Linked DNA regions of Homo sapiens. The protein of the gene in region 1 purifies or fractionates together with the protein of each later gene. This does not show direct contact. Each region holds a gene or a part of one and is shown in the gene's direction. Other genes may lie near its edges. The genes, in order: EDEM2, SLC25A16, SLC16A10, HIGD1C, HACD1, PEX3 and TVP23C.

What was found.
Region 2: the proteins of EDEM2 (region 1) and SLC25A16 purify together in Homo sapiens (affinity purification with mass spectrometry; 2 studies listed by BioGRID and IntAct, with this or other methods). This does not show direct contact.
Region 3: the proteins of EDEM2 (region 1) and SLC16A10 purify together in Homo sapiens (affinity purification with mass spectrometry; 2 studies listed by BioGRID and IntAct, with this or other methods). This does not show direct contact.
Region 4: the proteins of EDEM2 (region 1) and HIGD1C purify together in Homo sapiens (co-immunoprecipitation; one large-scale study listed by IntAct). This does not show direct contact.
Region 5: the proteins of EDEM2 (region 1) and HACD1 purify together in Homo sapiens (affinity purification with mass spectrometry; 2 studies listed by BioGRID and IntAct, with this or other methods). This does not show direct contact.
Region 6: the proteins of EDEM2 (region 1) and PEX3 purify together in Homo sapiens (co-immunoprecipitation; one large-scale study listed by IntAct). This does not show direct contact.
Region 7: the proteins of EDEM2 (region 1) and TVP23C purify together in Homo sapiens (affinity purification with mass spectrometry, with the first as the bait; 2 studies listed by BioGRID). This does not show direct contact.

The regions. Positions count from the first base shown.
Region 1 is NC_000020.11:35,129,655-35,134,376, reverse strand, and holds part of EDEM2 (ER degradation-enhancing alpha-mannosidase-like protein 2 isoform 1 precursor), read left to right. Parts: intron 1-2,593; coding exon 2,594-2,735; intron 2,736-4,722. Other genes in the region: MMP24-AS1-EDEM2 (ER degradation-enhancing alpha-mannosidase-like protein 2), read left to right, coding at 2,594-2,735. UniProt on the Homo sapiens protein: Involved in the endoplasmic reticulum-associated degradation (ERAD) pathway that targets misfolded glycoproteins for degradation in an N-glycan-dependent manner.
Region 2 is NC_000010.11:68,517,524-68,521,023, reverse strand, and holds part of SLC25A16 (solute carrier family 25 member 16), read left to right. Parts: intron 1-2,805; exon of another isoform or gene 2,806-3,500. UniProt on the Homo sapiens protein: May be involved in the transport of coenzyme A in the mitochondrial matrix. Very little is known about the physiological function of this carrier.
Region 3 is NC_000006.12:111,093,278-111,097,999, forward strand, and holds part of SLC16A10 (monocarboxylate transporter 10), read left to right. Parts: intron 1-4,722. UniProt on the Homo sapiens protein: Sodium- and proton-independent thyroid hormones and aromatic acids transporter.
Region 4 is NC_000012.12:50,961,903-50,966,624, forward strand, and holds part of HIGD1C (HIG1 domain family member 1C), read left to right. Parts: intron 1-4,722.
Region 5 is NC_000010.11:17,610,284-17,615,005, reverse strand, and holds part of HACD1 (very-long-chain (3R)-3-hydroxyacyl-CoA dehydratase 1), read left to right. Parts: intron 1-4,722.
Region 6 is NC_000006.12:143,477,805-143,482,526, forward strand, and holds part of PEX3 (peroxisomal biogenesis factor 3), read left to right. Parts: intron 1-1,271; coding exon 1,272-1,394; intron 1,395-4,722. UniProt on the Homo sapiens protein: Involved in peroxisome biosynthesis and integrity. Assembles membrane vesicles before the matrix proteins are translocated. As a docking factor for PEX19, is necessary for the import of peroxisomal membrane proteins in the peroxisomes.
Region 7 is NC_000017.11:15,546,458-15,551,179, reverse strand, and holds part of TVP23C (Golgi apparatus membrane protein TVP23 homolog C), read left to right. Parts: intron 1-4,031; coding exon 4,032-4,121; intron 4,122-4,722. Other genes in the region: TVP23C-CDRT4 (uncharacterized protein LOC100533496), read left to right, coding at 4,032-4,121.

The DNA.
Region 1 (4,722 bases):
AGGACACCGGTTCTGAGAGATACTGAGTGGCAGTTGCATGAAAAAATGAGTCTTGGCCAATTAAGTTAGGGGAATATTAGATATAATATCCCCCCCTTTTTTGGAGAGTCAGAATGCACATGAGCAGAATAAAAATCCTCTAGTAAAGAAATCTATTCAACTTTGTTTAATTTAACATTTCCCAAACTTATTTAACACCAGAGCTTCCCTTTATCTTCCAGTACTATTAACCCATGGAAATTGAACACACTTTGGACCAGATGATCTCTAAGGTCAGTTTCAGCTTCTAAATGGGATAATCAATAAGATTAACAGTAATTGAGCCAAAGCCATCCAGGACATAACACTGGATTTAGTCAGAACTGGATTCAAGCCCTGGCCTTGCTACATCGAAACTGTGTGACCCTGAGCAAGTCACTCAACCTCTCTGGTCCTCAGTTACTTCAGCAGTAACGTTAATATATTAATACCAACTTTGCTGAGTCACTCTGACTTAGGAAGACTGCATTTAGGTCTAGGCACATTTTATGCAGTCTGGTGCTAATCCAGCTTGAAAAGTAAAGCTTGTGTGAGGACTCCCCGAAAATCCCTTAAGAAGGTGCCCCCCTAAGGCTGGGTGCGGTGGCTCACGCCTGTAATTCCAGCACTTTGGGAGACTGAGGCGGGCGGATCACCTGAGATTGGGAGTTCGAGACCAGCCTGACCAACATGGAGAAACCCCATCTCTACTAAAAAATACAAAATTAGCCGGGCGTGGTGGTGCATGCCTGTAATCCCAGCTACTTGGGAGGCTGAGGCAGGAGAATTGCCTGAACCTGGGAGGTGGAGGTTGGGATGAGCCGAGATCGCGCCATTGCATTCCAGCCTGGGCAACAAGAGCGAAACTCCATCTCAAAAAAAAAAAAAAGGTGCCCCGCTGGAGACCTGTAGTAAATCCCTTAGTCCATCTCAGGCAGGTTTTGCTCCAGCAGTGGGACCGTAGTAGACTCTGTTGGTGCCATGCCCATATCCTCTCAACTCTTAACATTTCCATGCACACTGGCCAGTCTTCCAACTGCCATCACCTGCGCCTCTTTGCCTGTGGGTCTCCTCTGGTGCCTGGAGCCACTCTGCTTGCCTTTGGCTGAGGGTACCAGGATTTAATGCTACCCATGAGTAGCTCTCAAGCCGGTAACTGATACTGATGGGAGTTGGTGGATAAACATTCCAGTTCCCTGCCCCTTGGGTGGGATCACTCCGAAGCTGGAGCTCTACACTGAATTCCTAAGCTCCCCAGCAAGATTGAACTCCAGTTCCCATGGTGGAAACCTGCCTGATGGCATACCCCTTAAATGCCGCCTCCCTTGCCCTGCCTCACTTCCCCCTCCTCTACTGGTGTTTACAAGGACTTACCTTCCAAATCAACTACTTTCAGGCAGAATGAGGTTGTGCTCCTGGGGGGACACAAACCAACGCGGAACAGTTAGCTATTTCTTTGAGTACCAGATGAAGTTACCAGCTTCCATGAGGGTCTAAGCCATATGAAAAATACATATATTTGGCTGGGCGCAGTGGCTCACGCCTGTAATCCCAGCACTTTGGGAGGCCAAGGCAGGCGTATCACCTGAGGTCGGGAGTTCGAGACCAGCCTGACCAACAGGGAGAAACCATGTCTCTACTAAAAATACAAAAAATAAAATAAATACAATAAAATAGAAAAATACGTATCTTTGTTTATTTTTTTGAGACAGAGTCTCCCCCTGTCGCCCAGGCTGGAGTGCAGTGGCACGATCTCGGCTCACTGCAACCTCCCCCTCTTGGGTTCAAGTGATTCTCATGCCTCTGCCTCCTGAGTAGCTGGGATTATAGGCACACACCACCATGCCTGGCTAATTTTTGTGTTTTTATTAGAGACAGGGTTTTACCATGTTGGCCAAGTTGGTCTCGGACTTCTGACCTCCAGTGATTTTGCCCCCCTCAGCCTCCCAACGTGCTGGGATTATAGGCATGAGCCACCGCGCCTGGCCGGCATTGCCAATTTTTCACAGTCTCTACAGAGACTGAACAATTAAAAAAAAAAAAGTCAAAGGATACAAAAAAGGGTACTCAGTGACATTGGTGAAGTCCCCTTTTGCCCCTGTCTCCAGCTATTCGGTTTCTCTCCTTAGAACCACTCTGTCAGCTTCTTGGTGGATGTTCTTATTGAGTTAATTTATGGAAATACGTAAAGCACGTCTGTGTCTTCAGATAGTGGAATCACATGCTGGGTGCTGAGAAATCAGACAGATTGCGGCAACAGCAAATTCTCATCTCCCATCTCACACTCACTCTAGGCAGGACATAAACACTCCAAATCATTTTTCTTTTTCATTTTTTGCTCAATGTGTATAATTAAGTCCTCATAAATGTGCATGAGATGCATCTCTACTATGCAGATGTACAGGAAGGCTGGCCATGATCCAGCATTGCCCTTCCCTCTCAGGGTCTGCATGTTTCCCAAGAAGCACTGGGGCACCTGCCCTGCATCTCCCTGGGCAGTCAGGGTTGGGGGTGAGTAGATCCTTCTTTGGCCATCGGCCTTCCCGTTGGGACCGTGTGTCTTTCTCTCTCTCAGGTCGGCAACCACATTGATGTGCTCACTGGCAAGTGGGTGGCCCAGGACGCAGGCATCGGGGCTGGCGTGGACTCCTACTTTGAGTACTTGGTGAAAGGAGCCATCCTGCTTCAGGATAAGAAGCTCATGGCCATGTTCCTAGGTAAAAATGGCAGAGTAAGGGAGCTTTTCCCCTCATTTTTCTTGCTGATGTGTGATTTGTTTAAAAACTTTTTTTTGAGACAGAGTCTTGCTCCATCTCCCAGGCTGGAGTGCAGTGGCACAATCTAGGCTCACTGCAACCTCTGCCTCCCAGGTTCAAGTGATTCTCATGCCTCAGCCTCCTGAGTAGCTGGGCATGTGATGGTGTGGACTACAGGCGCACACCATCACATCCAGCTAATTTTTGTATTTTTAGTAGAAACGGGGTTTCACCATGTTGGCCAGGCTGGTCTCAAACTCCGGACCTCAGGTGATCTGCCCGCCTTGGCCTCCCAAAGTGTTGGGATCACAGGTGTGAGCCACCACGCCTGGCCTGAGTGCCTGCAGAATCAGTTCTGAATTCAGAGTCACTATGGACTTACACTGCCCACTTCATGCCCACTACAGCACTTGATGCCTTCTTGCAAAAGCCAACTGAAGCGTGCTGCATTCTGTGTATGTAGCCCTGGATTTCTTATCTCCTGGCCATTGCACATGGCATCTTCTTTGCCTAGAATGTCTTTTTTCCTGTCTTCCTATGTCCAAATTCTTTTCACCCTTCAAAGCCTAACTTAAATGTCGCCTTGCCCAGGAAGTAGCTTGATCCTTCTACAGAATTTGGGACCTTCAGCATCTTTCTTGCAGTTAGCTCTCATCAACAGTTACAGCTCTACAAATTGAATGCAGAATCCATGCCTTACTCATCTTATGTTCCCCACAGTGCTTTACATGTGGTAGGTAATAGATTAATACCTGTTGAATAAATACATCTTACCCGCCAGGCCCTTAGACACTAGCAATCTTGAGGAATTGTTGAGCACCTAATTACTATTATTATTATAGCTACAGTAGTCCCCCGTTATCCACAGTTTTGATTTCCATGGTTTCAGTTATCCATGGTCAACTGCAGTCTGAAAATAGGTGAGTACAGTCAGATACGATATTTTGAGGCTGGGTGCAGTGGCTCACGCCTGTAGTCCCAGTTTTTTGGAAGTGAGGATTGTTTGAGGCCAGGAGTTTGAGACCAGCCTGGGCAATATAGTAAGACCCCCTCTCTAAAAAAACAAAGATATTTTGAGGCACTAAATTTACATAATTTCTTTTTTTCCTGTCTCTTACCAAAAAGACAAATTCACATAACTTCTATAACATATATTGTTATACTTGTTCTGCTTTATTATTAGTTATTGTTGTTAATCTCTTCCCATGCCTAATTTATAAATTAAACTTTTTCGGCTAGGCACAGTGGCTCATGCCTTTAATCCCAGTGCTTTGGGAAGCTGAGGCGAGAGAATTGCTTGACCCCAGAAGTTCAAGATCAGCCTGGGCAACATGGTGAGACCTCGTCTCTACAAAAAATAAAAAAAAATTTGCTGGGCATGATGGTGCGTGCCTGTAGTCCCCACTACTTGGGAGGCCAAGGTGAAGGATTGCTTGACCCTGGGAGGTCAAGGGTGCAGTGAACCGTGATCATACCACTGCATTTCAGCCTGGGTGACAGAGTAAGACCCTGTCTCAAAAATAAAAATTTTTAAAAATTTAATGAATTAAGAATTCTCATAGATGTGTATGTATAGGAAAACAGTAGTCACGCATTGCTTAATGACAGGGATATAGTCTGAGAATTGCATCGTTAGGTGATTTCATCATTGTGCAAACATCATAGGGTGTACTTAAGCAAACCTAGATGGTATAGCCAACTACACACCTAGGCTATATGGTGTAGCCTATTGCTCCTAGGCTACAAACCTGTACAGCATGTTACTCTACTGAATACTATAGACAATTGTAATAGAATGGTAAGTATGTATATAAACATAGAAAAAGTACAGTACAAATACAGTATAAAAGGGCACATGAATGAAGTTCACAGGACAGGAAGTTGCTCTGGGTGAGTCAGTGAGTGGTGAGTGAATGTCAAGGTCTAGGACATTACACTATTGTAAACT
Region 2 (3,500 bases), on another chromosome or scaffold:
TAGCTGGGACTGCAGGCACGTGCCACCATGCCGGCTAATTTTTTGTAGTTTTAGTGGAGACGGGGTTTCACCATGTTAGCCAGGATGGTCTCGATCTCCTGACCTTGCGATCTGCCCGCCTCAACGTCCCAAAATGCTGGGATTACAGATGTGAGGCACCATGCCTGGCCCTTCGCCTGGCTAATTTTTGTATTTTTTTTTTTTTTTTTTTGAGACAGAGTTTTGCTCTTGTTGCCCAGGCTGGAGTGTAATGGTGCAATTGTGAATCACTGCAACCTCTGCCTCCTGGATTCAAGCAATTCTCCTGCCTCAGCCTCCCGTGTAGCTGGGATTACAGGCATGTGCCACCAGGCCTAGCTAATTTTTGTATTTTTAGTAGAGATAGTGTTTCTCCATGTTGGTCAGGCTGGTTTCGAACTTCTGACCTCAGGTGATCTGCCTGCCTCGGACTTCCAAAGTGCTGGGATTACAGGTGTGGGCCACTGCGCCTGGCCTAATTTTTGTATTTTTAGTAGAGACGGGGTTTCACCAAGTTGGCCAGGCTGGTCTTGAAATCCTGACCTCAAGTGATCCTCCCACCTAGGCCTCCCAAAATGCTGGGATTATAGGCATGAGCCATTGTGCCCGGGTCAATTGTTTATTTACAGATTGTCTATCTAATATTTTTTGAACATGGATGACTGGTGGTAACTAAAACTGCAGAAAGTGAAATTGCAGATAAGGGGGGACTATCGTAGTGTGAAAGCAAGTTAAGATACTATTAAATAGGCTGGGTGCGGTGGCTCATGCCTGTAATCCCAGTACTTTGGGAGGTAGAGGCGGGTGGATGACGAGATCAGGAGTTCAAGAACAGTCTGGCCAACATGGTGAAACCCTCTCTCTACTAAAGACTAAAAAAAGAAAAAATTAGCTGGGCGAGGTGGTGGGTTCCTGTAATCCCACCTACTCGGGAGGCTGGGGCAGGAGAATCGCTTGAACCTGGGAGGTGAAGGTTGTAGTGAGCCGAGATCGCACCATTGCACTCCAGCCCTGGAAAAAAAAAAAAAAAGATACTATTATATAAAAGTACTTATTGAATACATTCTAAACAATTTCTCTCTTTTTTTTTGAGACGGAGTTTCGTTCTTGTCGCCCAGGCTGGAGTGCAGTGACATGATCTCGGCTCACTGCCACCTATGCCTCCCGGGTTCAAGCGATTCTCCTGCCCCAGCTTTCCAAGTATCTGGGATTATAAGCATGTGCCACCACACCTGGCTAATTTTTGTATTTTTAGAAGAGATGGGGTTTCACCATGTTGGCTAGGCTGGTCTCGAACTCCTGACCTCAGATGATCTGCCCACCTCGGCCTCCCAAAGTGCTGGGAATACAGGCGAGAGCCACTGCACCTGGCCTAAATAATTCATTATACAGTTAATTCATACACAACTGAGAAGATAATATAAAATATTCTGAAACCAAATGTATCCAAATGCATATTATTTTTAGTTTACCCATAATTTTGGATAGCTATGATTATGATTTACTTTTTTTTTTTTTTTGAGATGGAGTCTCACTCTGTCACCCAGGCTGGAGTGCAGTGGCACAATCTCAGCTCACTGAGACCTCTGCCTCCCGGGTTCAGGCAATTCTCTGCCTCAGCCTCCCGAGTAGCTGGGATTACAGGTGTCCGCTACCACACCTGGCTAATTTTTGTATTTTTAGTAGAGACAAGGTTTCACCATCTTGGCCAGGCTGGTCTTGAACTCCTGACCTCGTGATCCACCCACCTCGGCCTCCCAAAGTGCTGGGATTACAGGCATGAGCCACTGCGCCCAGCCTTTTTTTGTTTTTTGAGACGGAGTTTCATTCTTGTTGCCCAGGCTAGAGTGCAATGGTGTGATCTCGGCTCACCACAACCTCTGCCTCCCAAGTTCAAGTGATTCTCCTGCCTCAGCCTCCCAAGTAGCTGGGATTACAGGCACACGTCATCACACCCAGCTAATTTTGTATTTTTAGTAGAGACAGGGTTTCTCCATGTTGGTCGGGCTGGTCTCAAACTCCCGACCTCAGGTGATCCGCCCACCTCGGCCTCCCAAAGCGCTGGGATTACAGGTATGAGTCACCATACCTGGCCAACTATTATTTTCATTAGTTCGGATAAGAGAGCTTTGATATGGAAACATAGTGGATATAATATCTGAGTAAAAAATACATTTTATTTATTTATTTATTTAATTTATTTATTTATTTATTTATTTTATTTGTTTTTTTGAGACCGAGACCTGCTCTGTTGCTCGGGCTGGAGTGCAGTGGTGCGATCTCGGCTCACTATTACCTCTGCCTCCTGGGTTCATGCAATTCTTCTGCCTCAGCCTCCCAAGCAGCTGGGATTACATGCACGCACCACCATGCCCAGCTAATTTTTGTGTTTTTAGTAGAGATGGGATTTTACCATGTTGGCCAGGCTGGTCTTGAATTCCTGACCTCGTGATCTGCCCGCCTCGGCCTCCCAAAGTGCTGCGATTACAGGCATGAGCCACGGCTCCCAGCCACAATTTATTTTTGGATATCTCAGAATATGGATTTTTAAAATTAAAATTTTATTTGTGTTTTCTTTTTTTTTCTTTTTTTAAGACATAGTCTCTGTAACCCAGGCTGGAGTGCAATGGTGTGATCTCAGCTCACTGCAACCTCCACCTTTTGGGTTCAAGAGATTCTTCTTCCTCGGCCTCCCCAGTAGTTGGGATTACAGGCAGCCGCCACCATGCCCGGCTAATTTTTTTATTTTTAGTAGAAATGGGGTTTCACCATATTGGCCAGGCTGGTTTCAAACTCCTGACCTCAAGTGATCTGCCTGCCTCGGCCTCCCAAATTGCTGGGATTACAGGCGTGAGCCACCGTGCCCGGACTTGTTGTTTTTTAAAGACCAGGTGTTGCTGTGTTATCTAGGCTGGAGCGAAGCCGCACAATTATAGCTCTCCGTGACCTCCAACTGTTGGCTCACGTCATCCTCCAGCCTTAGTCTCTGAGTACTGAGGCACACCACCATGCCTTGCTAATTTTTTTTTTTCTTTGAGATGGAGTCTCGCTTTGTCGCCCAGGCTAGAGTGCAATGGTGTGATCTCGGCTCACTGCAACCTCGGCCTCCTGGGTTCAAGGGATTCTCCTGCCTTAACCTCCCAAATAGCTGGGACTACAGGCGCCTGCCACCATGCCTTGCTAATTTTTTTGTATATTTGATAGAGACGGGGTTTCACCATGTTGGCCAGGCTGGTGTCGAGCTCCTGACCTCAGGAGATCTGCCCGCCCCGAGCTGCCAAAGTGCTGGGATTGCAGGCATGAAGCACTGCGCCCAGCCGATTTTAAAAAATTTTTTGTAGAGATGAGGTCTCACTGTGTTTCCCAGGCTGGTCTCAAACTCCTAGTCTCAAGTAATTTTTCTACCTCAGCCTCCGAAAGTGCTGGGATTACAGGTGCGAGCTACTGTGCCTGGCCTGTTATTCACCTTTTTATAAAAGGAG
Region 3 (4,722 bases), on another chromosome or scaffold:
TCCTGAAAGGGAGGTTCTTTGGCTATAATCTTTAACGCAACTCTACACTCCCTGTATGGAGACAGATTTCTTTTTAGATGGTTACAGTCACAAAGTAGGGTTTTCAGTAGCATTTAGGGATGAATGAATCTTGCAGCACCTCTCCATGTATCTTGCTAGCCCCTCTGAAACTTCAGGTCAGTTAGTGCTTCCTCAGAAATTGTTCCCCCCACACCAAGTTTTCACATTTACAGTTATACTGATATCCACATTGTACTGTTGTATGTGACACCTAGATTATAGGAAATTTTGGCTATAGTTCAGAAATTAACTGCTATGTTTTGCCTTTACGCTAAAGAGATTTTGTTTTGTTTAGTAGGAAAAGCGGCCTGCATAACTAGCCATTTCTGTATCTTAGAAAAATTTTTAGTAACAGTCCTTTGTTGAGCTAGTTACAGTGAACAAATAATCTGGTTCATGGTCCTATACATCTTTCACTATAAGAAAAATACCTGATTGTTATTTACACTGGAAGAGAGGTAGAAAAGCTAAGAGAACTCACTTATGGCAATAAACCAATCTAAACTACCTGCTAAAATAAGTGAGAAGATTATAAAAATGGTTCTAGGATTTTGGAATAATAGTGAGTATGGTATGGGCGTTTCATACTTCATTTCCAGAATGTTTCTGGATTAAGTGCGAGACTGAATAGCATATATAGTGAATTCTAATTAAATACAACAATGTGAGATTCCTGTGGTGTTTTTTCATGGAATTAAAAATTAATAATTTCAATAAAATTAACTGCTGAAAGAACCCAATTAGCCAAAATGAAAAGCATAACACATTTTTTCAGGAGCGATTTTGAGGTGTCTTTTAGAATAAATTGTACTCTGCTTTTGATGTGATTTGCTACATCTTTTTGTTGCAGTTCCTTGAGGCTCAGCCCCTGGCCATATACTTGCTTCACTTTTCCTGCTTTCTTCCATCCACTGTCTTGGGGCTGTTATTTCCAAATCTCATCACTGTGTTCAAGACTTATTTACTATTTCTGGACAGTTCCATTTGGGTACACAGGTACATCATACTAAACTAACATGAACTCATTTTTCAGCTACACCATACAACCTTCCCTTACTACCAAAAATGACAGCCCATTTGTCGGCATTCTTCTGAATCCATATTCCTCCTTCTTAATTCTCTGTGCATGATACCTCTGGTTGTTTAAGTCAGAAACCTGGAATGTATCTTAGCTTCTTATTTCTCTTCCTTCCTTACCTGTTTTGTTAAATCAGAGTTCTTTTGTGTTTACCTTCTTAATGCCTCATAAATCAGTCCCACTTTTCTTTCACTACTGTGTCTTAATTCATGCCTTCATTTACTTTTTATTTTATTTTTTGGGATAGGGCCTCACTGTGTTCCCCAGGCTGGAGTGCAGTGGCATGATCATAGCTCACTGCAGCCTCAAACTTCTAAGCTCAAGCAATCCTCCTATCTCAGCTTTTTGAGTAGCTGCAACACCAGGCACATGCCACCATGGCCGGCTAATTAAAAAAAATTTTTATGTGGAGATGGCATCTTGCTATTTTGCTCAGCCTTGTCTTGAACTCCTGGCCTCAAGCGACCCTCCTGCCTCAACTTCCCAAAGTGTTGGGACTACAGGCGGGACCTACTGTGCCTGGCCACCTTCATTACTATTGGCAACAATTAGTCATAACCCCTTAACAGGATTGCTTGTCCTCAGTTGTACATCTGAGTGATTTTTCTAAAAGATTGGACCATATGATTTTTCTGTTTAAATGCCCAGTGACACTCATTACTTTTAGGAAAATGTCAAACTCCCTACTCCGAAGGCCTGCAAGCTCTGGCCCTTGCCTGGCCCTCTAGCCTTGCCCCTGCTTCTCTCCCTTACTGGTCTTTGTGTTCTAGCCAACCTGTAGGTGTTACACTGGCCCAAATTTGTCTTGCTGCTTTTTGCCTCTGTACCTTTGTGTGTGCCACTCCTGTCTTCAGTGCGATGGTTGGTCCTTGTGAGATTCTGATGAAATGGTTGGCCATTTTATTCTTATGTCACAATCCTGGGACACAAACAGTGATTTTATGCAATTGTTATGTATTTGATGCACTTGGAATATTGGGGGTAGCTACATTTTGGAGTTTTGAGAACGAATTCAAATAAGTTACAAATTATGTTTAAAGTGGTAGACAGAGAACCTGATTTCAACCTATTCTAATAAAGCATTCCGTGAAAGCCATTTTAAAGATGATCCATATTTGTTAAAGTGGTAATTTTTATATTCTCTGATATGGTTTGGCTGTGTTCCCACCCAAATCTCATCTTGAATTGTAGCTCCCATAATCCACACTTGTCATGGGAGGGAGGTAATTACCTGGTGGGAGGTAATTGAATCATGGGGGCAGGTTTTCCTGTGCTGTTCTTGTGATAGTTAATAAGTCTCATGAGATCTGATGGTTTATAAAGGGCAGTTCCCCTGCACACTTTCTGTTGCCTGTTGCCATGTAAGACATGCCTTTGCTCCTCTTTCACCTTCCACCATGATTGTGAGGCCTCCCTAGCCATGTGGAACTGTGAGTCCATTAAACCTCTTTTTCTTTATAAATTACCCAGCCTCAGATATTTCTTCATAACACTATGAAAATGGAGTAATACATTCCATTACCATAAAGAAAAGGCTTTCATGTACATTATTTTTTAGAGTAGCCTTGTGGTATGTCATTACCTCCATGGATAGATAAGAAAGTTGCAACTTGCACAGTATTAGGATTGATATCAGTATTTACTTTTATTAAGTTGAACTTAAGAGCAGCTTTTTGGCTGGAAAAAAGTTGTACTTATGTCAAAGTTGTCCTGAAAGTAGAATCCTACTCCTGTCCCCAGCCTGAAACTATTTACTACATATTTACTTGCATGTTCTTTAGAATATTCTCTCAATAGTGTCTCCTACTCAAGTCATCAGAAATGCTGTGATGTCATTTTTGGAAAAGAATTCCAGAGTTATCACCGCCTAGCTAGAAATCTGGTCTTATATTCAAATTAAACAAGCAAACCTTAACAAAAACAAGCTAAACCCTAAACATAACATGAACAGTCAGCTCACCACAGTTCTGAGCACCTGCCTTGGCCTGGTGCCACCCACGCAGGGACTGTGGATGTTTTTATTGGCAGAGATTCAGAACAGGAAACTCCAGCACACCTGGGAACTGCGCAGACCCACCACATAAGACAGATAGCCTATCAGTGGCTGGAGGAATGGAGGAAAGCAGTGCTTTCAAATGTACATGCCAAATGTGTATGATCATACCTCTTTGTTAAAGTGCCTTCTTTAACAGCAAAAGTAATTCCTCACCTTGCATATAGGAACTAAAAAAAAGTCGATGAAGAAATGGCTTGCCTTATTTTCAAGTAAGAAGTCTTTTTTCATTTCACTAATTTTTAATTATGGGCATAAGTATGAAATACAGATTAGAAATACTGAATGTGGACCAAAGCAATGTTTCCTTTGTGGACCAAAGCAGTGAATCTTTTTTCTTTCTTTCTTTCTTTTCTTTTTTTTGTTAAGAGACAGGGTCTTGCTCTCTTGCTCAGACTGGAGTGCAGTCAGTGATGTGATGGCTCACCATAACCTCAACCTCTTGGGCTCAAGGGATCCTCCTGCCCCAACCTCCTGAACAGCTGGGATTACAGGCACATACCACCACACCTGGCTAATTTTTAAAAATTTTTTTGTGGGGGAGGGTCTCTCTATATTGCCCAAGCTGGTTTCAAATGCCTGAGCTCAAGTGATCCTCCAACCTCAGGCTCCCAGAGTGTTGGGATTACAGGTTTGAGCCACTGTGCCTGGCCCCAAAACAGTGTTTGTAACTCCCTTTGTCCCCTCTTGATAAACATAAAAGTCTCATGGTACTTCAGAATTTTGTTGCACACATCCAAGTGTAGTTTGCCTTTCCTTGTGAGTGGCAGAAGACAATGTCATACTCTGTATTTATCCATCAGCCAAAATTTTGTCAAGCTTTACTTTTATTTTTTAAATTTTTATTTGTATTTTTTTTTGGAGACAGAGTCTTGCTCTGTCGCCCAGGCTGGAGTGCAGTGGCGTGATCTCGGCTCACTGCAACCTCCGATGCCTGGGTTCAAGCGATTTTCGTGTCCCAGCCTCCAGAGCAGCTGGGACTACAGGCACGCACCACCATGCCTGGCTAATTTTTTTGTATTTTTAGTAGAGGTAGGGTTTCGCCATGTTGGTCAGGCTGGTCTCGAACTCCTAATCTCAGGTGACCCACCCGCCTCAGTCTCCCAAAGTGCTGGGATTACAGGCATGAGCCACCATGCCCGGCCAAGCTTTACTTTTAGTTATGTTGTGGATATAATTAGAATTATTTTCTTGTTCTTTAAATACAGAATTATAATATTGAATGTGTGCTTTAAAAAAATTAGTAAATGTACCCCTCTAGAACTTCTGATCTATGCCTCTTAGTGAGTGAGGGGAGCTGTGCCGCTTTCCTCCTCCAGTGCCTCCACTTAAGAATCACTCACTAAGGAGTTTTAAATTCAATTAAAGGTATCCTTTAGATAGTTAAGTCTAAATGAAAGGTCAATGATTAAATTAATGGATAAAAGTCCATTGCACCTACGGAAAGGTGCATTGGTCTACAGTTCAGCTAGTACCTATTTTTTGCTAAAGATTAAATTGCAGCTGGGCGGGGTGGCTCATACCTGTAATC
Region 4 (4,722 bases), on another chromosome or scaffold:
CAGGAAGCCTTACTACAAAGTTACAGTCCTCATTTTCATCATTCAGCAAACATTGATTGAATGCCTGCTATGTACCAGACACTGTTTAGAAATATGACTCAGTCCCTACCCTTAAACAGTTTAGTCTCCTTAGGAAGACAGACCAAGAAAGAAAGAAGACAATATAAAGTTATAGATGCCGTGACAGAAATAGCACAGGCTGGCTGGGCGCAGTGGCTTGCACCTGTGATCCCACCACTTTGGGATGCCGAGGCGGGCAGATCAACTGAGGTAAGGAGTTCGATACCAGCCTGGCCAACATGGCAAAACCCCATCTCTACTAAAAAAATTACACACACACACACACACACACACAAAATAGCTGGGTGTGGTGGCACATGCCTGTAATCCCAGCTACTTGGGGGAGGCTGAGGCAGGAGAATCGCTTGAATCTGGGAGGTGGAGGTTGCAGTGAGCCGAGATCATGCCTTTGCACTCCAGCCTGGGCAATAAGAGTGAAACTCCATCTAAAAAAAAGCCAGGCACGGTGGCTCATGCCTGTAATCCCAGCACTTTGGGAGGCCAAGGCAGGAGGATCACTTAGGGTCAGGAGTTCAAGACCAGCCTGGCCAACATGGTGAAACCCTATCTCTACTAAAAATACAAAAATTAGCCAGGTGTGGCATGCGCCTGTAGTCACAGCTACTTGGGAGGCTGAGGCAAGAGAATCGCTTGAACCTGGGAGGCAGAGGTTGCAGTGAGTCGAAATCATGCCACTGCACTTTAGCCTGGGCATCAGAGCAAGACTCCATCTCAAAAAAAGAAAAAAAAATTTTTTTGCTATGGAAGCACAAACACAAGGGAGTGGTATTTAACTAGGGCTGGGAGGCCAGAGGAGGCTTCTTTAAGGATGTAAACCATGTACTGAACCAAGAATAAGGAGGAATTAACTAAGCAGAGAAGGACCTCAGGATTCTAGGCAGAGGAAAAAACAAAGGCACAGAAGCATGGCATGTAAGTGGAACTCTACATAGCTTGGTAGGCGAATCAGTGTTTGAGGAGAAAAGCAACACTACTAGTAGTAATGTTTAATGAGGGATTTATTACAGGTATTTGAACTTATATAATTATGAGGCTCTTGCTTATGAAATCTGGAGCTGGGGCCTGAAGTGAGCCGGGAAAGGAATTAGAAAAGAAAGGAAAGTAGGCCAGGCATGGTGGTTTGCACCTGTAATCCCAGCACTTTGGGAGGCCGAGGCAGGGGTATCACTTGAGGTCAGGAGTTTGAGACAAGCCTGGTCAACATGGTGAAACCCCATCTCTACTTAAAATACAAAAATTGGCTGGGAGTAGTGGTGCATGCCTGTAATCCCAGCTACTCAGGAGGCTGAAGTAGGAGAATTGCTCGAACCTGGGAAGCGGAGGCTGCAGTGAACCAAAACCACGCCACTGCACTCCAGCCTGGGTGAAAGGGCAAGACTCCATCTCAAAAAAAAAAAAAAAAAAAAAAAAGAAAAGAAAAGAAAGGAAAGTAGAAGCAAGGAAAATCCAGAACCTGCAAAGATGAGCTAGAACAATACACAGGACAGACTGGAACCCTTGTGGGTTTTCAGCCATCTCCAAGCCTCCACATTCACTGACGGAGGTGAAATATAGAAAATGCCAATGCCTTTCATCCTGGGGCTAAACATGGAGCTGGCAAAGGGGTCAGAGAAGGTGAAGGAGAAAATTCAGCAGGAGCCATGGTGGCTGTGCTCATGATTGCTGAACCCTGCCAATAAAGTGAGCCAGCAGAGAAGCAAAACTGTACCGCAACAGTGTCTTCCAGACATAAGAAGAATTCGACTGCTGCATCATTTCCACCTTCTAAATCTCATACAGGATGTCTCTTTTGCACTAACCCTGGTAATAAAAGGAAAGGAATTCTGGAAAATGCAGTTACAGGCTACTTCAACTGACATAATATAAGCCTACCACTGTCCAGCCCTTGTCAACTTGACATCCATATATACCTCTATTAATTACTCTTAACTTCCAAATAAAGACAGTGTCAAAATCAGCCACCCCTTGTATATCCAAAAGCATGCTAGTTATCTCCCAAAAGAGGATACAGAATCCCTTCATACGTCTTTGGATGATGATGATTCCTCTTTGAGCTGAATCACATTCCCCTTTGATATCCTATGACTTAAATCCTGAGATATAAGGTTGAATCCTATTAACACTTCTTATGTTAGATGATAGGTAAATGGACGTGGGGAATAGAAAAAAATTGGGCTAATCTATACATAAATGCATTCATATCAAAATAAGGAAGAAACACTCCTAAATATCACAGTCTGTTTCTGCAGCTGGTCAGATGGTTATTGCTAGTATTATATCTATATTCATCCACTACACATTTCATATCCCCTTTGCTTTCAGCAAGTACCTTGGCTACTCATGGTTATTTGACTGGTGGGGTGACCCAAACCTTCATTCCTTCATGCCTAACCTGGATTATTAGGCATCCTGCCTGTGTTGGATTTAGTTTTCCATTGTCTTTAATCACAGGACATGGGAGTACCAAGAAGTGCCCTAAAAGATATAATGCATTCCAATTTCCCCTTGATGTTCAGAACAAATTAATATAATGAACTAAAGGGATGTCCTGTGTAATGAAGAGATGATCAAGGTCCCTGCAGACTAGATTATGACATACGGCTGGAGAGTTCACACAGCCCTGATATTAGGCAGTGAAAGCATACTGTGGGCCCTGCCAGGTGAAAGCAAATGCTTCTGATTATCTTTAGTAAAAGATATACAGAAAAAAGCATTCAACCAGATTAACAGCTGCATACCAAAAAGCAAATGTTATGTTGATTTGCTCCAGCAGCAAAACCACATCTGGATAGCAGAGTGACCACCTGATTAAGTTTATAGGAATAGTATCATTCTCCAAGATCCATCTGTCTTCTGCCAAATAGGCAAACTAAATGGGGATGTTTTAGGAATCACCACTCTGGTATCTTTTTTCAAAGACTTTTTGTAGAGGCAGAGTCTCACTATGTTGCCCAAGCTCAAACTCCTGACCTCAAGCAATCCTCCTGCCTTGGCCTCCCAAAGTGTTGGGATTACAGGCACGACCCATTGCATCTAGCCACTCTGGCATCTTTGAAGTCCTTGATGATGGCACTAATCTCTACAATCCCTCTAGGAGTAGGGTAATGCTTTTGTTTTATGTTTGTGGGTTTTTTTGTTTTTGTTTTTTGAGACAGGGTCTTGCTCTGTCACCCAAGTTGGAGTGTAGTGGTATGATCATGGCTCGCTACAGCCCCAAACTCCTGGGTTCAAGCAATCCACCCACCTCAGCCTCTTGAGTAGCTGGGACTACACGTGTGCACCACCATGCCTGGCTAATTTTTAATTTTTTTTTTTTTTTTGTAGAGGTGAAGTCTTGCTACATTGCCCAGGCTGATCTTCACCTGGTGGGCTCAAGCAATCCTCCCACCTCAGCCTCCCAAAGTGCTGGGATTACAGTTGTCAGCCACCGTGCCCAGCCACTGGTTTACTATTTTTCCTTCCACTTGGTATTTCCTACTATAATAGCCCTTACTTTGCAGGTCAGGGGACCAGTGTAAGAATTCTGACAGTTGATGAGTATGTCTATTCCAATTACACATTCCAGAACTGAGGAATAACAGAGAGTGGGTTCAGTGACCCACCAGGCTTGACTATGAAACAGACCCACAGCAAAACTCCATTAACCACCTGACCTCCACAAACCCCTACTTTGACTGGTAGGCCACACTCATTCTACCAAAGTATGGATTAGTGTCAATTTAGAACCAGGATTCAAAAATCCCCCATAAATGTGATTCTTTTCCCTTCCTTGGTGAACAGGTACCCTGGTAAATGAGCACAGGTCCCCTTTGGGAAAGGCTAGAAGGAAGACTTACATCTATTTTTGTCTGTCGAACATGGTCTTTCCTTAAGGGGATCTGGCTCCCTCTTCATTCAAGGGATTTCTGGGCCTGTGAAAATGACTCAATTCTAGGAATTGGTCAAGGAGCCCTGGCTCTTTATTGTGGTGATTCAAGTTAGACTTTTGTTCACCAAACCTAGAGCTTTTCTGCTTCTGCCCATAAGTTTCAGTTCTAGGGATACCATAATCAGTTAGCCAATGCCAAAGATCTCTGTGGCTTACTTAGACTATTCTGATGACCACTTAGGCTTTGCTGCCCATCACAACAATCATGCTTTCCTTGTCTTTGTCAATCAAATGCTACCACTTGACCCCCACAGCCTCAGGATCCCATCATCCCCATTGAATTTAGGGAGCCCAGCAGTTTGCACTGTCATTTCTGGCATACAGAGAACAGTCACCACAGGACTCTTGTCAGGGCTACCCTGACAAATGTCTTTCTCACAACCTTAGTTTAGGGAGTGGGTAAGCAGGATAAATTTACTCTAACATACCAATCTCCCTAATCCTTTGGATACCTACCTCTGTGGCAGTTTCTGAACCTCAGCACTACTGACATTTTGGGCTGGATTCTTCTTTGTTGTGGAGGATTGTCCCATGCATTGCAAGATGCCTAACAGCATCCCTGGTCTCCACCCAAGAGATGCCAGTAGAACTCCTTCCCACCTCCACACCCTCAGTTGTGACAACCAAAAACATCTCCAGACATTACCATATTTCCCTGGGGAACAAAACTGCCCCTGGTTGAGAACCATTACTCTACCAAGGAAGTTCTGGCA
Region 5 (4,722 bases), on another chromosome or scaffold:
CCGAGGTGGGCGGATCACGAGGTCAGGAGATCGAGAACATCTTGGCTAACACGGCGAAACCCCGTCTCTACTAAAAATACAAAAAATTAGCCGGGCGCCATGGCGGGCGCCTATAGTCCCAGCTACTCCGGAGGCTGAGGCAGGAGAATGGCGTGAACCCGGGAGAGGGAGCTTGCAGTGAGCCGAGATCGCGCCACTGCACTCCAGCATGGGCGACAGAGTGAGACTCCGTCTCAAAAAATAAAATAAAATAAAATAAAATAAACGTTTCCTTGTTATTTCCTTTTTTTTTCTTTTGTTAAGCCAAGCCCTTGCTCTGTTTTCCAGGCTGGAGTGCAGTGGTGCTTACTACAGCCCCAACCCCGAAGCTCAAAGCAATCCTCCTGCCTCAGCCTCCTGAGTAGCTGGGACTACAGGCGCACACCACCATCCTCAGCTAATTTGAAAATTTTTTTGTAGAGTAGGCCGAGCACGGTGGCTCACGTCTGTAATCCCAGCACTTTGGGAGGCTGAGGCGGGTGGATCGCCTGAGACCAGCCTAGCCAACATGGCAAAACCCCGTCTCTATTAAAAATACAAAAATTAGCCGGGCATGGTGGCACAGGCCTGTAATCTCAGCTGCTTGGAAGGCTGAGGCACGATAATCGCTTGAACCCAGGAGGCTGAGAGATCGTGCCACTGCACTCCAGTCTGCACTCTGTCTCACACAAAAAAATAAAACAATAATAATAATAATTTCTGTAAAGACAGGTTTTTGCTATATTGCCCAGGATGTTCTCAAGTGATCCTCCCACAATGGCTTCCCAAAGTGCTGGGATTACAGGTGTGAGCCACCGTGCCCAGCCAGTGAACATTTTGAAATATCTGCCTTGTGTTAACTGGGTGTCTGTCCTTTCTCTTTTCAGTTGACTCTCTGTCTTGAAAGCCAACTGATATTTCAAAAATGAACATCAATGCATAGCTCCAGTTTAAAGACTTCAGTGACTCCCTGCCACCTCCACCCTGATCTAAGGGATTCAGGCTATCTGCCATTCAAGGCTTTTTGCAATCTGCTCCCGATTCCCCTTTCCAGTCAACTTGCATTTGATATCTCTGACTCACTCGTCCCTCAAAGCACCATGTATTTTCACAGCGCTCTGCTTCTGTGCTCAGGTTTTTCACTTTTGTATAATGTTCTCCTGTTATTCCCATGACTTCTAATCAAATCTACCTCTTTGAAGTTTTCCGGGTCTCCTGCCTTACCTGGTGCAGAATTAAATGCTTTCTCCATTCTGTCCCTCTGACCCTTCCCCGGCAAATCAGGGCTTGTTCTAAACTTGTCTCCTTCTGCCTCTACTGAGAAGTTTCCTTGTCATATTTACAAAAATAAGGGATATTGAAATGGAATAATCTCTGTAACTGACTCTTCAGATGCTTTCTAGAGGCGGTGAGATTTGAAGAAGGAATAAGATTTGCATACATAGAGAGTAGACATTTCAGGTGATATAAATTCTGGAAATAGGCATGATATGCAAGCCTGATGTATTCTCTTGATTGAACTGGAGGGTGCTGTTGGGGAATAGTGGTAAATAAGGTTGAAGAAGTTGTAGTGTTGAAATCGGGACAAGAACTTACACGTTTTATAGGGTGGACAGCAGAAGACTAGTTGAGGCTCTTTTTGTTCATTTAACTTATTTCTCTGTTAACAGAACTTTGGCGTGTTTATTAATTTTTTTGTAATAATTTTCAAAACAAGTGGGGAACAGTGGTATGCACCTGTAATCCCAGCTACTCAGGAGACTGAGGCAGGAGGATTGCTTGAGTCCAGTAGTTTAAGACCAGCCTGGGCAGCAAAGCGAGACCCCATCTCAAAAACAAAACACACACACACACACACACACACACACACACACACACACACACACACACCCCAAATTGCAAAGCAACGGAATAGTATTTAAGAAATATTATAAAATTTTACATAAATGTAAAATACAGCTTGTTATTTTATCAGCCTATCACACACTTTCATTTTCTTTTTATCTTTCATATGAATATTTGACCTCTTCCAAGTTTTTTTGTTTTTGTTTTTGTTTTTTTTTTTTTGAGACGGAGTCTTGCTCTATCACCCAGCTGGAGTGCAGTGGGGAGATCTCGGCTCACTGCAAGTTCCGCCTCCCGGATTCTCGCCATTCTCCTGCCTCAGTCTCCTGAGTAGCTGGGACTACTGGCGCCCGCCACCACGCCCGGCTAATTTTTTTTGGATTTTTAGTAGATACGGGATTTCACCGTGTTGGCCAGGTTGGTCTTGATCTCCTGACATCGTGATCCGCCCGCCTCGCCCTCCCAAAGTGCTGGGATTACAGGCATGAGCCACCGCGCCCGGCCCCCTCTTCCAAGTTTTTACTCAAAACTTCATTCTCAAGGAGGCCTTACCTGGTCATCTTAATTTGAATAGTGAAACACATACTCCTTATCTCCCTTGCCTGTTTATTTTTCTCCATCCCACTTTCTTTCATATGATTGTACAATATATTTTACTTATTCGCAATGCTTATTGTCTGTCATCTCCATTAGAGTGTAAACTCCAAGAAGTACTCAATAAATATTTGAATGAATGAATGAGTGAATGTATTACAGCATTGCTGTTATAATATCTGCTGTATTGTATATTTTTCCATTTTCACTTAATAGTCTGTCAGGTTTTCATCTGTTTTTCATAATTATACTTTTTGACAGTTACATTTGAGTGTATAGAATTAATTATACAATAATGGATTAAATCATGCGCCTAACGACATTTTGCTTTTATTTGTTTCTGTTCAATTCGTGGCTTAGTGTAATAAATTCCTGGAAGAAGAATTACACCTTTAAAGGATGTAAGGATTTTTTAGGGTTTTTTTTTTTTTTTTTTTTTTTTTGAGATGGAGTTTAGCTTTGTTGCCTAGGCTGGCGTCAAACTCCTGGGCTCAAGTGACTTCCTGCATTAGCCTCATGAGTAGCTGGGATTACAGGTGAGTGCTACCATGCCTGGCAGATGTAAGGATTTTTTTTTTTTTCAAGACAGAGTCTCGCTCTGTCACCCAGGCTGGAGTGCAGTGGTGCGATCTCAGCTCACTGCAAGCTCCGCCTCCCGGGTTCATGCCATTCTCCTGCCTCAGCCTCCCGAGTAGCTGGGACTACAGGCACCCCCCACCACGCCTGGCTAATTTTTTTGTATTTTTAGTAGAGACGGGGTTTCACCGTGTTAGCCAGGATGGTCTCGATCTCCTAACCTCGTGATCTGCCTGCCTCGGCCTCCCAAAGTGCTGGGATTATAGGCGTGAGCCACCACACCTGGCCAGATGTAAGGATTTTTATGGCACTTGCTCATAATAGGGAAGTGAGCATTTCTCTCCCTCCCTCTCTCTTTCTTTCTGACAAATACTTTTGTGCCCGTATATATAAATGCATTGTCCTTCAAATACTTTAGGCCCTGTCCTTGAAGCAGGGTAACCTGGGGCATTAATATATAAACAACAATTGCAATAAAATAATGAGATAAGTGCTAAGCAGATGTGTCAGAGGACAGACAGGTAGGGAGAATTAGAGAAAGTTTTCTGTGAGAGATCACAGCATTTAAACTGAGCGGTGAAGGACTTAAGTAGGCATAAGTGGGGAAACAGCATGAGTTAGAGGACAGAGATCTGAAATTGCAAGACATCTGTTGAGGCATCAAGAAGAGGGCTTGGGCCGGGCGCGGTGGCTCATGCCTGTAATCCCAGCACTTGAGGCTGAAGCAGGCGGATCACGAGGTCAGGAGATCGAGACCATCCTGGCTAACACAGTGAAACCCTGTCTCTACTAAAAATACAAAAAATTAGCTGGGTGTGGTGGCGTGCACCTGTAGTCCCAGCTACTCGGGAGACTGAGGCAGGAGAATCTCTTGAACCCGGGAGGCAGAGGTTGCAGTGATCCGAGACCATGCCACTGCACTCCAGCCTGGGCAACAGAGCGAGACTGTCTCAAAAAAAAAAAAAAAAAAAAAGAAGAGGACCTGAAGTGTAGAGTGGGAAATGAAGGCGGACAGGTAGCTTGGGGCATTGCACTGGGCCTCAGATGCTTTGCTAACATGTTTGGATTTTAGTCTGTACACAATACACAAAGGTGTTGTTTAAAGGTTGTGTCTCATTCCTTTGTAGCTGGGTAACCTCAGATAAGCTACTTAACCTCTCTGACTCTTAGTTTTCTCATCTGTAAAGTTGGAACAGCACAACTACTTAGCTAGATTATAAAGGAATAAAGAGATAATGGATATGAAGTTCTTAGCAGGATGCCTGATGCACAGTGGATGTTTACAAATGTTCATTTTTATTCCTAGTGGTTTATTTAAAATTGTACTTTTTTTTTTTTTTGAGACAGAGTCTGGCTCTGGAGTGCAGTAGCACCAGCTCAGCTCACTGCTCAGCCTCCCAGGCTCAAGTGATCCTCCCACCTCAGCCTCCCGAGTAGCTGGGACTACAGTCACGTGCCACCACACCTGGCTAATTTTTAAATTTTTTGTAGAAACAAGGTCTTGCCATGTTGCCCAGGCTGGTCTTGAACTCCTGGGCCCAAGCAATCCACCCACCTTGGCCTCCCAAAATCCTGGGATTACAGGTGTGAGCCACTGCGCCTGGCCTAAAATTGCACTTCTTGCAGAAAGAGAAAGTAAGATATTTTCACAGTATACTTAGTATGATTTAATAGAACAAGAAACCCAAG
Region 6 (4,722 bases), on another chromosome or scaffold:
AGTTTCCATTTCTTCAACTTTCATCCCCTTAATCATTTTTCTTCTTGGAACCTTACCATATTACCTTTAAAAGAATAAAGTTCAGCCCAAATTACCGTGCAACCCAGCAATTCCACTCCTAGGTATCTACCAAAAAGAATGAAAACATCTCTAGACAAAAACTTGTTCAGATTTTTCACAACAGCATTATTCACAATAGCCAAAAAGTGGAAACAGTCCAGATTTCTATTAACTAACAAAAGGATAAAATCTGATGTATTCATATAATGGAGCCCTATGTAGCAAAAAAGGGGAGCAAACCACTGATACATGCTACAGCATAGAAGAACCTTCAAAACATGCTAAGTGAAAGAAGCCAGACACAAAAGACCACATATGTATGACTGTTTCTATGAAATGTCCAGAAAACTATATAGACCAAAAGTAGATTAATGGTTACCTGGGGCTAAGACTGAGATGAGAATTGGCTGGAAATGGGCCTAGTGGGTGATGAAAATGTTCTAAAATTGGATTGTAGCGATAGTTGCACAACTATGCAAATTTACTCAAAATCATTGACTTGTGCATTTAAAATGGGTGAATTTTATGCCCTCTAAGTCCTACTTCAATAAAGCCGTTAAAATGCTTTTAAAATAGAGATGACTAAGGAGAAAAGGTAGGTAGATAGAAAGATACACACATACACATGCACACTGTAGTCAAGAAATTGGAACATAACTAGGTATTTTCTAGCTTTCTTGGCATCTTTATATATTATTCTTTATATTAAAGAGTTTTGTGAGGAACTAAGAGAGTATAATTAAGATCAAAAAACCCCGGTCTCATGTTTGAGCTCCCCAATTTACTAATCACAGGCCTTTCGTCAAGCTTCTTCATCCCTCAAGTATCATTTCCTCATCTGTACACAATAATATTTTCTGTCTCACTGAAATATCATGCTAGAGGATGTAAAGCCAACTAATCTATGACTATAAGGAAATTTAAGAGTTTCCTCAAAATTAGTAGTACTAGTACTGATATTTTTTAAAAAATTCATTGTACAAAGTGCTGACTAGTATAAAAAATCTGAAGTGGATGAATATTCTCATTATGTTGTGCTAAATAAGCTCATTTTTAAATACTTTTTAAAGATTGATTTCTTGATATATTTTACAGTATTAGATTATGACTAGAAATGTTGGTGGCTTTCAAAGGTAACCACGTTATTACTGAATTTGTTTTCTCTTCCATTCAGAGTCTAAAAAGTAACTTATACTTCTTACTTTATATAGCCCAGATTTTAGTACAGTTTTGAATACCTGTTTAAACCGAGGTTTTAGTAGACTTCTAGACAATATGGCTGAGTTCTTTCGACCTACTGAACAGGACCTGCAACATGGTAACTCTATGAATAGGTAAGATGACATATAAAAATGTTATACTAATGAATGCTCTAAAAAAATGGTGCTTTGCTTGTCTTTTTGTTCCAGATAACAACAACAAACCTATTAAATTTGAGTGCCTCATTTTTTAACAAATTAAACTCTGTTAAACCAACAACTTCTTCACTAGCAGAAGCTCCTTCTTGGTTTCAGTATTAAAACTTGGAGTCTTCCAGAAACTTTGCCACTATATTGAAGTACTTTAGTTGTAATTACCTTTCTATAAGTTGAATTCCAATTATTGTTTTTTTTTAACTCTTTAGAATACAAAACTCACAATATGTTTTAATTTTAATGCATTCTCTAATGTTATTCCATTACTGCAGGCCATTTTGGTCTGCATATTTCAATATTTTGTTCCTTATAATACCCGGGCATTGTTGGTATAGATTCTCATTTGATGAATTAGCTCCTTATAGTTCTACAAATGCTTAAATGTATTCATTCCAGTCCTTATTACAGAATTAGGAACATGTATTAGTGCAATTGTTAGTGATTTTAATCATAACTATTACTAAATCATGGACTTATGTATGCCATAAGGTATCTTACGGTTTTTTATATCTTTGTTATCCCAACACAAATATCTTTGGTCTCATATTAGAATTTATACTCTTTAAGGATTTCTATTTTGCAGTTTTTTATGTCAAACTCGGAAAATAATGGGTACTAAATTAATGTTGACTGACTGTAAACTCATTCATTAAAATTTGAGACACATCCTTTGAAGTAGCTTTAAAATTTTTTTTTTAATTGGGGACACAGTAATTGATAGGCAATATGTATGTGCAATATCCAATTTAATTCTTAAATACATAGGGCCAGAAGTTACTTACCAGATTCTCTGAGACCCTTCTTTATTGTAGAGAAAAGATTAATTTGACATTGACATTAAGCATTTGGAATGCTTACAGCCATAAAGTATATTCTCTGAAGTAATTTAAATATCAACATAAAATCTTTAAAAAAATTTTAAGTTATACAAAAATAAATTTCAGCTCAAGACCAATCCTATATACTGTATAAATCAAGGTGCTCCAATTAGTAAAATTTCACCATAATCTGTATATAGCAAGATATTCGTTATTTTGCAAGTAGTGATACATAATTGTAATGGTTATTTTAACATAAATACTTGATTTTGTACACTGAAGAATTGTAAAAATTATACTACAGCCACAACAGCCATGATAGTGTTTCTTTTCTGAACTATAGTAATCATTATCTGTACTTTCATGTACAACCTACATGTGCTACCTTGAATTGGAGTTTTATTCCTCAGTTACATTTTAAGCCTCCTCTCAAAAGTCAAAAACTATCTTGTGCCCTTTCATGTCTCTTTACTCATACAAGGCACTCAGTAGATATTTTCTATATAAGTTTTTCTGTTTCATCTCAATAACCAACTTCATGCTCCATGATTGAACCCTAGAAACATTTCCATCAAGCCTATTGTCATCATTGTTTAATGTGTTGTGAAAGTCTAGCCATCATAGTAAGTCAAGAAAAAACAAATGGCTAAGGCCTGTAATCCCAGCACCTTGGGAGGCTGAGGTGGGTGGATTGCACGAGCCCAGGAGTTCAAGACCAGCCTGGGAAACATAGGGAGAGACCCTATCTCTACAACAAATACAAAAATTAGCTGGGCATGCGGCACATGCCTGTAGTCCCAGCTAATTGGAAGGCTGAGGTGAGAAAATCACCTGAGCCCGGGAAGTCAAGGCTGCAATGAGCTGTGATTGTGCTACTGCACTTCATCCTGGGCGAGGGAGTGAGACCCCCCTGCCCCCCCAAAAAAAGAAGTAAGGTTTTTAACTATTGGCAAAGACACAAAGTATATTATTTACGTGTATTATAATTAATAAGCCAGACCTCTGAAGAGAATCAACTGAAAAATGAGGTAAACTAATAAAGGCTTTAATTTATATATATATATATATATATAAAATATATATGCAACATATATGTATTAATGTATTATATGTATTACATATGCATGTAATATAATGTATAATGGATATTTAAAAGTCAAAAGTGCAAAATGAAATCCAGAAGTATATTACAATAATAATAGCAGCTAATACTTTTTCCATGTGCTAGTTTGATGATAGGTATTTTTCAGAATGTCTCTCATTGAATTCTTAAAATAATCCTAGGAAATACGTACTAGTATTCTTCATTTTCCAGGTGAGGAGACTAAGACACAGAAAAATTAAATAACTTCAGGTCAAGTGGTAAAGCCAGTTGTTCAATAATGTCTATCTGAGATAGAAATTTTTCTCCAAATTTTTAATTATTCTCCAACACTATGATTAATTAAGGTTTAAGAATGTAAGGAGGGTTAAAACTAGAAAAGCTATTTTGGTAATCCATAACATTAATAAGCTAATAAGATAAAAAACATTATCTTCAGTGTTGCTGAAAAGACATTCAATAAAACAACATTTATTATGGATAAAACCTCTTACTAGAAATAAAAAATACATTTTTATATAATAAAATAATATTTGAGTCAGGTATGATAGCTCACTTCTGTAATCCTGATGCTTTTGGAGGCCAAGGCAGGAAGATTGCTTGAGGCAGGAATTCAAGACCAGCCTGGGGAATATAGCAAGACTCCTGTCTCTACAAAAATTTTTAAAACCACCAAGAGGATTGCTTGAGCCCCAGAGTTCAAGGCCACAGTGAGCTATGATCATGCCACTGTACTCCAGTCTGAGTGACAGAATAAGACCCTGTCTCTTAAAAAAATATATAAAAAAAGAGTATTTGAAATCAAAAGCAAATATACTTAATAGTAAAACTGGAATGATTTCCATTAAGTTCAAAAACAGTATAAAGATGGTCACTATTGACAGATTATTCAGCATCATTCTATTATTCTATCTAATGGAGTAAGGCTAGGAGAAGACCAATTTTGAGATTCAATTAAGGAAAGCTGTTGATTTTTTTCTATACTTATATCTTGAAAATAGGTAACTTTTACTGTTGGATAGCGAAAAAAGAAAGAAAATAGACAATTTACTGAGTGTTCTTACCATTTTAATAAACTGTTAGTTGACCGTTGGTTTTCTAAGTTAAACTCATGCTATCTTTAAAAATGATATCAATTTTGAAAAGGGAGAAGAAAAAGCTATTGTTATATGAAGGGGACAGACTTTATACTTAGAAACCCAAGAGAGTCAACTAAAAAGTGTAAAATTAGCCTTCCAAAATTAATCTAAAATATAATCAAAATATTATCAAAATTCTATTGGAGATTGGAGGATGGTTGATTTTTTTCATCTTAAACCTGACAAAT
Region 7 (4,722 bases), on another chromosome or scaffold:
GCGCCACTGCACTCTAGCCTGGGCAACAGAGCAAGACTCCATCTCAAAAAAAAAAAACAATAATGGCAACTATTAGTAAAATTTAAAACCAGTCGTGTATCTTCTGCAACATTGGAGAAGATGGAGCAAGTAAAACAGTTCATAGAGCAAAAGAAGGAAAACAAAGCAACTGTCAAGGAAGCTTAAATCAGAGAGTACATGTATAAAGTGATGTAAGTAATAGCAAATTCATTATAATAGGAAATGTAATTTGATTAAACTACCCATTTAAAGACAAGAATACTAAGATTGGTCAGAAATCAAAGTCCAAACAAAAGATCTAACCAAATTAATGACATTAGAAAAAACAAAAGAAGGCAAAGATAACATCAGGCAAAAATAAAAGAAGGCAAAGATCAACTCAAACAAAAAGAAACTTGGCATTGTATTATTATCAGATGAGATATGGATCAGAGTAAGAAAGCACTAAGAGGAACAAAAAAAGGTGATTTTATGAATCACAGTGAAGATCATTCACAGAGTAAAATTATATCAAACTATGTATAGTAAAAAAATTGGAAATATTAGAAAATAGAAAAGCATTATGATGAGTTTAACAAACTACTATCTTAAACAAACCAAAGTGCCAAAAAATAAATAAGTTCTGAAGGATCTGAATGAAATAATTGGCAACATCAATTTGATAGCAGTATTTGGGACTTTGTATGACAGAGAGAATACTTTCTTGTTAAATGCCTGTGGAACATTTACAAAAATTGACTAAATATCACTGTGAAGAAAATCAAAATAAAATTGCCCAAAGCACCTACATTTTCTACTCCAAAGAAACAGAACTAGAAATTAATAGAAAGTAGTTGTTGAAATTGGAATTCTTTTAAAAAAGCGAACTACTACATATCTTGGGTTTAAAAGGAAGCAAAAACTGTAAATATAAGTTATTTATACCTTAATGGTGATCATTTACAGTTAAACTTTCTGAATATGTCAAAAACTGAATTCAGAGGGAAAATAATAGACTAAAGCCTTTTATTTTAGACAAGAAAGAGGGAAAATAATGGACTACTTGAGTCCAGAAATTTCAAAAACAAGCAATAAGTGTGAGAAATCAGGAAAATAAACTAATAAAGATAAAAGCAGGAAATAAAGAGTTAGAAAATGGAAACAGAAGAGTTTGAAAGTATTCTGAGAGCATTCTTTGAAAATACCTATAGAAGAGACCTCTGGTTTAGGTCTCCCTTGCCAGCTCTTTTTTTTTTTTACTTAGCATCTCTCCCATAGGAATTTTGGTCTCATAAGACTCTTCCTTTTCTTCTCCTGTATTCCCTTCCTAAGGAGTGCTGTCTGTGCTTCTGGTTTGAATTGCTGATCTGTAAGCTGTGTTGCCTCCCAGATCTGTATCTCCATTCAGGTTTGTCCTCACAACTTAAGGCCTCTCCATGTGTCTTCTTGACGTTTTTATGTGGCTGTCTTGAAGGCATCTCAAATCTTTTTTTTTTTTTTGAGACAAAATCTTGCTTTGTCACGCAAGCTGGAATGCAGTGGTGTGATCTTGGCTCACTGCAACCTCTGCCTCCCGGGGTTCAAGTGATTCTCCTGCCTCACCCTCCTAGATAGCTGAGACTACAGGCATGCACCACCATCCCTAGCGAATTTTTGTATTTTTAGTAGAGGCAGGGTTTCACTATGTTAGCCAGGCTGGTCTTGAACCCAAGTGAGCCACCATGCCTGGCCAGGCATCTTATATCTTAACATGTGTAAAATACTACTTGTCATCTTCCACTCCCCAAAAGCTCTTCTTCTTTGAGTGTTCCCTTTCGTGGGGCCTGGAATCACTATTTTTTTACTTGAGCAAACCGTAAATGTATCAGTTGCCTCCTTCCTACTCCATATCCAATTAATGACCAAGTCCCATAAATCCATAGATTGTACTTTCTTCATTAGGGCATCAGTGCCTGCTGCTCTATCTGGAATGCTCTTCTTCCTCCCACATCACCTTCATACAGGGATTCCTAATCTTTTTATGCCATGGGCCCCTTTCATAAACTCATGAATAAGTTTTCACATATATAAAATACATAAGATTTCAAAGGAAGTCACTTATATTGAAATATAATTTAAAAATATTAAAAAAGTAAATTTCTGATTGAGTTATATGTGTAGTAGTTCCCCCATTATCTGAGGTTTCGCTTTCTGCGGTTTCAGTACTGCTATATGCTACGCTAAACAGTAAGATACTGTGTGAGGAGAGAGAACTACATTCACATAACTTTTATTAGATTATGTTGTTATAATTGTTCTATTTTTATTTCTTATTCTCTTACTGTGCATTATTTATAAATTAAGCATTATCATAGGTATGTACTTATAGGAAAAAATATAGCATATATAAGGTTTGGTATTAACCACAATTTGAGGCATCTGCTGGGGGTCTTGGAATGTATCCCCTGCAGATAAGGGAGGACTACTATACTTTATGAATTTATTAATGGTAAGATCTAGTGGCAGGTCTAATAACTACTTTCAAAGCAGTGGTGAGCATAAACAATATGTTAAGATAACTGCAGCAAGTATAGTACAAAATGAAAAATGTCTGTGGTTTCTATTGTGTCAGGGTGTTTTTAATTTTACCTATGTTCATAGTTTGTTGTCTACATTCATAATTTAATGATATGCTAACTACTTTCAAAGCAGTGGTGAGCATAAATAGTATTTTGAGGCCGTGCGTGGTGGCTTACACCTGTAATCCCAGCACTTTGGGAGGCCAAGGCGGGTGAATCACTGAGGTTGGGAGTTCGAGACCAACCTGACCGACATGGAGAAACCCCATCTCTACTAAAAATACAAAATTAGCTGGGCATGATGGCGCATGCCTGTAATCCCTGCTACTTGGGAGGCTGAGGCAGGAGAATCGTTTGAACCCGGGAGGCAGAGGTTGTGGTGAGCTGAGATCGCCCCGTTGCATGCCAGCCTGGGCAACAAGAGCGAAACTCTGTCTCAAAAACAAAAAACAAAACCAAACAAAAAACAAAACTACAATATTTTGAGGTAACTGCAGCAAATATAGTACAAAATAAAAAAATGCCTGTGATTTCTATTGTGTCAGGGTGTTTTTAATTTTACCTACATTCATAGTTTGTTGTCTACATTCATAATTTAAAGATATGCTAAATTTTAGCCAGAGGTTAATGAAAATGAAGGTAACATTTTTTTTTACCCATCGAGGTTCACAGAACCACTGAATCTATTAGTGGACACCATTAATTAAACATCCATGGTACTGTTGATTCTTATTTATCTTTTATATTTCATTCCAAATGTTGACTCCTCAGAGAGTCATTTTCTGATACCCAGACTAGATCAAATTTCCCTGTTATACTCTTCAAGCATCCCACACTTTTCCCTTGCAGGACTTAACTCAGTTGGTAATGGTACATTTGTGCATTGGTTGTCTGCCTCTCTTCACCTCTTTCCCTGAGGAAGGAGTTGGTATCTGTTAGTCACTGTTGTATTACCAGCACATAGTAGATGCTCAGTAAATATTTGTTGAGTAAATAAAGATTAGGAAAGCTATCAAACTAATTTGTTACCTTAGTAAGTAGGAAAAGAGCTTGGTACACTTGAGAGACTGACTGAAGGCCAGTGTCTATAATCATTTTCAGGGATATGTAGTTGTAAAATATATGTAGCTATAGTCAGGATGTAAAGTAGGTCACAGTAACCAAATAGCAAGGGGTTTAGGGAAAATTAGGGAACTGGAGAAAGGGCAAATTGTTCATGAGGGAAAAGAGAAGGTGTAATGTTTATGGGTGGACTTGTTGCTTGCTCTGTCACCTCTACCCCTATTAGTCCTGCCATTACCATTTTACTTAATCGTTTAGCCAGGCCTGATACATAGTAGTCTTTGCTAACTGGATATTATGGAGGTAAAGCTGAAGGTTTTTGTTTGTGAAATGTTACACTAAGATAGGAGCTTGTGACAGATCTTTAAATAATGCTTTTAAAATGTGCCTGTTTATATTAATCTTCACCAGAATGTCACAGGTAGACTAATGGTTGGCCTACGTTGGTGGAATCACATTGATGAAGATGGAAAGAGCCATTGGGTGTTTGAATCTAGAAAGGTAAAGTGCCTTTTTTGTTTTAAATAATGTTATCAGCTAAATTATTTGTAGACTATATTTAAATACTGGAAGATGAAGTATTCAGAATTAAAAACACTATACCAAATCACTTGGCATGTCAGCACTAAAGGAGATGGCCTTCTAGAATTTAATGCATTTTTCTGTCTAGTTCAGACCAGAAACAAGCAATATACGAACAGAATCCTTTGAGGGAAGACACTGGGTCTGAGTTCATACAGTGTGCTAAGCTGCCTGTCAGGGATTGCTGATAAAAGATCTCTGTGTTGCCTTTGTTAGTGTCTCCATAAATCCCTCTATGCTCAGCAGATAACTGCTTTTAACATCTTGTTCTGTCTTTGCTCCTGTGGTCGTCTTTCATTTCTGGGCAGGAAAAAGGAGGAGGAGTGCAGCTGGATAGAATATCTGATTGGAGCACTCTATTCCTAAGCTTCTGCCTTCAGGAGCCCTGGGGATCCTGGTCTGTTTTGGGTTAGCCTGCTACACTATAGTGAATATTCACTTTCCTTGTGGAAATAAGTTTTGGAAGCAGAGGACCAAATTCTTGGCGACAGTACACCAAGGGTATTGACAAGTTATTTTA